2 separate regions of the Homo sapiens genome follow, and region 2 is linked to region 1. Evidence: fine-mapped expression QTL. Tissue or cell type: whole blood. Region 1 holds a variant in brackets; the other region holds the start of a gene. All regions are shown on one strand. Distances are between the middles of the regions.

Evidence for each region. PIP is the estimated chance that this variant, and not a neighbour inherited with it, causes the effect.
Region 2: it holds the start of ATRIP, and the variant in region 1 is fine-mapped to the expression of ATRIP in whole blood (INTERVAL, PIP above 0.99).

Annotation. Positions count from the first base shown.
Region 1 is chr3:49,351,517-49,354,198 of GRCh38, reverse strand. No RefSeq gene overlaps it. Among named protein-coding and RNA genes, the nearest start is that of GPX1, 5.5 kb to the left of the region's middle. RefSeq lists an enhancer at 1,660-1,739. The variant C/G (reference allele first, on the strand shown) is at 1,674.
Region 2 is chr3:48,445,574-48,448,255 of GRCh38, reverse strand. It overlaps ATRIP (ATR interacting protein), which reads right to left and starts at 1,519. Exons shown (of 13, transcript NM_130384.3): 1 at 1,164-1,519. The coding sequence starts at 1,410. It overlaps ATRIP-TREX1 (ATRIP-TREX1 readthrough), which reads right to left and starts at 1,477. Exons shown (of 15, transcript NR_153405.1): 1 at 1,164-1,477. It also overlaps a transcript of CCDC51 not described here. RefSeq lists a silencer at 1,215-1,574.

The DNA of each region.
Region 1 (2,682 bases):
CGGGCGTGGTGGCGGGCACCTGTAGTCCCAGCTACTCGGGAGGCTGAGGCAGGAGAATGGCGTGAACCCGGGAAGCGGAGCTTGCAGTGAGCCGAGATTGCGCCACTGCAGTCCGCAGTCCGACCTGGGCGACAGAGCGAGACTCCGTCTCAAAAAAAAAAAAAAAAAAAAAGAATAAAGAAGAGGACCAGGCCCAGTAGGGAGGCTCATGCATGCCTCCTGGAAAAAGTGACAGTGAGGCTGGGTGCGGTGGCTCACACCTGTGATCCCAGTACTTTGGGAGGCCAAGGTGGGCAGATGGCTTGATGGCTTGAGGTCAGGAGTTTGAGATGAGCCTGCCCAACACGGCGAAACCACGTCTCTATTAAAAATATGATAATTAGCTGGGCGTGGTGGCGGGCACCTGTAATCCCAGCTACTCAAGAGTCTGAAGCAGGAGAATCACTTGAACCCAGGAGGTGGAGGTTGCAGTGAGCCGAGATGGTATCACTGCACTCCAGCCTGGGCAACAGAGCAAGACTCCATCTCAAAAAGAAAAAGTGGCTGGGCGCGGTGGCTCACACCTGTAATCCCAGCACTTTGGGAGGCCAAGGTGGGCGGATGACAAGGTCAGGAGATCGAGACCATCCTGGCTAACACGGTGAAACCCTATCTCCACTAAAAATACAAAAAATTAGCTGGGCGTGGTGGCGAGCACCTGTAGTCCCAGCTACTCGGGAGGCTGAGGCAGGAGAATGGCGTGAACCTGGGGGGCGGAGCTTGCAGTGAGCCGAGATTGCACCACTGCACTCTAGCCTGGGTGACAGAGCGAGACTCCCTCTCAGAGAAAAAAAAAAAATTGAGACTGAAAAGAAGTCAAGAAGCAGTTGGTTAAAGAATAAGCTGATGGCGGGTGAGCAGGCAGGGAGTATAGTGTGTGAGATCCTGAGATGGGAAGGTGGCATTCTTGACTAAGTCAGCAACAGGAGGAGCAGGTTTTGGGGGTAGGTGGATGTGTTCAGATTCAGCTATACTGCATTAGACATCCAGACAGAGGTATCTGGGGCAGGCAGTTACAAGAGGCGCAGAAGAAGAGAATGTTGAAAGGCAATGGTCTAGCCACGGGAGCAGTAGCCACTGGAGAGGATGAGGTCACGTGGGGAAAGTGGCAAGAAAAAGATTAGGGGACCTGGGCCTGAGGCCTATAGATTCACAATCCTTCCAGATGAGATGGCAGAGAGAAATAGCTGGGGAGGAACAAGGTTGGAGCAAGGAGCCAAGGGAAGGGACAGTTCCTAAAGAATAGTTAGCTGGAACCCATGCTTCTGGACTGCCTGCAGTCTCGGGGCAGCTGGAACCAAAGCTAGAAAGCCATGTGTCTAGGAGGTACCAGGTCCTATTCTAGGAGATGAATATACAGTGCCCAGGAGTCACCCAGGTACTTGTGAAAATATATGTTCCACAACCCACCTCCAGAGACACCAAAGTGGAAAGTCTAGGGACCTAGGGTCCTACTCAGTGTTCTACCAGCTGGACCTGTGAGAAGAGACATCCCACTTCAACTCTCCCCTTTCCTGTACAGGGTCAATGTGGCCTAGGCCACACTCTCTGGTTAGGCTACAGGATAGGAACCCAGAACTTTCCAATAAACTCCAACTTCTCTCCAGGATGCCTGGTGATTGACCCCTCCTTGC[C/G]CCATGCCACCCCCACCATCTCAGTTTATGCCTTGGACTACGAGTGAAGGGAACTTTTTTTGGTTTCCCCTGAAATTACTCAGCTTCAGTAAAGGGAACTTCTGAACTCCCAGTATGCCTGATCCTGGCTGGAGAACATTTCTCCTCAGACTTTAAGCTGTATGCCTCCTCTCTCAACTAGAAGTCATTTCTTTCTTTTTTTTTTTTTGACAGGGAGTCTCGCTCTATTGCCCAGGCTGGAATGCAGTGGTGCAATTTCAGCTCACTCCAACCTGTCTCCCGGGTTCAAGCAATTCTCCTGCCTCAGCCTCCTGAGTACCCGAGACTAATTTTTTTGTATTTTTAGTAGAGGCAGGGTTTCACCATGTTGGCCAGGCTGGTCTTGGACTCCTGACTTCAAATGATCCACCCACCTGGGCCTCCCAAAGTGCTGGGATTACAGGCGTGAGCCACCATGCCCGGCCAGTCCTTTCTAACTCTCTCTTCTCCAGGAAGTTTCAGAGTAAAGCCAGTTAAGACTTCACTGTCTTCCCCCAACACACACAGACACACTCTCACACATACACATTCTTTTCATTCAACCATGCAACTGCTGCTGCTCTGACTGGTACCCACCCCACCCCATTGTGAATCAGCAGCTCAAATAAACAAGTAAAAGAGTAGAAATCACATTCAGCCTATGTGAAGTCCTGGCTTTAAAAGCAGAAATGGCTGCAGAGCATTGCTTGCACAGAAAACACATACAGCATTTAGGCCACTGACCTAGGTTCAGAAACTTCCATTTCAGCAGTTCTTACAGAAGGGCTGCTTTTGGGGTTTTTTTTCAAACATTAAATCTGATAAAATTAGGTCAGGCATTTCTTGCACAATTAGCAGTTGATCAAATGACTTCCTTATTCTGACTCAACGTAGTCCTAAAAACAACATTTAAAACAAGTTTATTTTCAGGCTCAGTGCAGTGGCTCACACCTATAATCCAAGCACTTTGGGAGGCTAAGGTGGGCAGATT
Region 2 (2,682 bases), 910 kb after region 1:
TGGGAGGTAGAGGCTGTGGTGAGCCAAGATGGCATCACTGCACTTCAGCCTGGGTGACAGAGTGAGACTCCGTCAAAAAAAAAAAAAAAAAAAAGGGTGTTCACGTATATCTGTGTAAGACACAGCCAGATTTGAGTTTTGAAAAGATCACTCAGAATGTGATGTGAAGCCTCACTTGTAGGGAGTCAAGACTGGAAATGGGAAACCAATTTAGCAGACCATTGTTCAAGAGAGGACTCATGGTAACACAGATCAGGCAGCTGGTAGAAGCAATGTGAATAGGATAGACTCCAGAGAAGGATTAAGAAGGTAAGCTTGACATGCTTTCCAAATAAATTAGATGTAGAGTCAAGGAAAGGGGAAGAGTCGCTTTGTGCCACTGGATGGAGAGTCGTGCTAGTTACTTCCTTGTGGAACATCTGGTCATCATTCTCTGAATGTCTGCTTTGCCGGCACCATGCTAGAAGTGCTGGAGGAGGACTGGGTTTCCAGGAAATGATCGTGTTGAGTTTAAGGTGCCTTGAGACACCCAAGTACAGATGCAAGGTGCACTCAAAACATTTCTCTTTCTGGGAGTCCTCAAGACTTCACTCACTCCTCAACTAGAATGTAAGCTCCATGAAGGACAGTTTTTGTATTTTGTTCATTGTAAGGTCAGCTGCAGTTCCTCACGTTTGGGCACCTAGCACAGTTTACTGGTTGTATAAAAGAATAAATTTATTTCATCTCTTGCCTGTGTCTGGCTCCTCCCATGCTCACACTGCCCAAGGGAGACAGTGGGCTTCATAAGATCTAAAGCCGCTCAAACTTGTCACAAGAATGGGTCCCCATGCATGGGTAGTGATGGTTCTGATGGTGGTGGTAGGTGTGTTCCAAGGATCTCTGCTTAGAACCAAGAACCAAGTGGCCTAAACTTTAGAAAATAACGTAAAATGTCAACTTAGCCTTCTGTGTTTCAAATCGGCTGTTTGACCTGGCTAATGCATTTCCCCCTAAAATCAAAGGACCTTCTGGAAGACAACCGCTGCTTAAATCAGGGTGTTCCCATATTTTAAAAAGGCGAAAAGGCAGTGCTGGCCGCGAGGTTCCGAAGCCACAGCCATCAAGGGGATCTGGCGCGGTTGACAACTCCCTCCGAGCAAAAGGCCGCGAGGAGCACTCACTGGACACGTCCCGAGCCGCGGCCGGACATTGGCTCAGGGCCTGTGACGCGAGGGTGTCAAGCTCCTCCAGGTCGTCGGCAGTGAAGTCCCCATGCGCGCCGAACGGGTCGTCAGGGTCCGGGGCAGCGGCTGCGGAGAAGCCCCGGGCCCGCTTGCTCGGGGGGTGCCCGGTGCCCGGCGGCGGGCCGGGGCGAGGCGCCGGGGGCTCGCTCCGCCTCTTGCTGCCTGGCGCGGAGGTCCCCGCCATGCTTTCCGCTCACCCCAAGTATCCGACAGCGCCGAGCTAGACTTGCCTGCCGCCAGGCCGGAGAACTGGACCAACCGTCCGCGCGCCGCCGCTTGCCTCCGCCGCGAGTGCCCCGCCCCTGGCCCAGGGGCCAATCAGCTGGCAGGCGGAGGGCGCGGAGGAATGACGAACGTCCGAGCGCGCCGCCACACCCGGCCCCGCCCGGTGTTTAGAGGTCCACGGGCGGGATTCGGCAGGTTTGCTGCAAGGACTCAGTGCGGCGCGACCCGTTACCGGAGAGGCGGGCCGGAGGCGCACCAGCTCCGCCGCGCTGGTGGCTTTGCGCTCCCTCCCTGGCATTCCGTGGAGGAGGGCCGCGCAGGAGCAGCCTGCCCTAGCATTCACGCGTGTTGCGTTTGAGTCGAGCCAGGCATCATTCAGGGATGTGGTCTCCGTGACCTCGCTTTCCTTCTGCCGCCAGACCCACCTCCCACAAACCCCTAGGCTTTCTTGAGGAGAGTGGAATTTGTTGGGTGAGGAGTATGAATAGAGCTGTCGTGTGCAGACATCTTCGGGTTTAGTGAATGTTTCACATGTGTACATTTGAGGTAGGCCCAGGGAGGAGGAAAGTCCAAGGAGGAATGATGTTTGGAGCTGTTCTTGTGTGGGAGGGGGTGGGAGCTGCTCAGGCTGTTAACATCCATTCCTCTGAGTGCTGGACTGTTTTTTTTTCCTAAGCTCTGGTTGTATAGAATAGGGCTCAGGAGGTCAAGGAAGTCCCCCTGTAAATGGCACCTGCGCTGTCCTACAAGTTGAGTCAAGTTAGCAGGATAGAGGGGTAGGAGGCTGGCACATAAGACTAACACGAGAATTCTACATTGAAAGGGAGGCCACACAAAGGCCAGGTAAGAGTTACCGGTGGCGAACAGAGGTAAAGCTTCACAAAGGAGCAGCAATTTGAGGTGGGCTTGCGTGCCTGACAGATTTTATTGGGCAGCTGTGGTGTGCAGAAGTTAGCCGCAATAGAGAATTTGGCAATGGAGAGTAACAGGAGCAAGACTCTTTCAGCCTTACCTGCTCAGTGCCAAACTTCACCTGTGAGTGTCCTAGGAATATTTGTGAAAGCATTAAATGAAAAGAGTAAATGAAAAAGAGAGTGCTATCAGGGCCTATAATGTCTAAGGAGTTTAAAATTTTTTGGAGCAACTGGTAGTCTCCGTCAGATAGCTTCCCAAGTGTTGCATGCTTAATTGCTGCAGGACTCTGGTCCTGGAAAGAGACAGGACTGTTCAT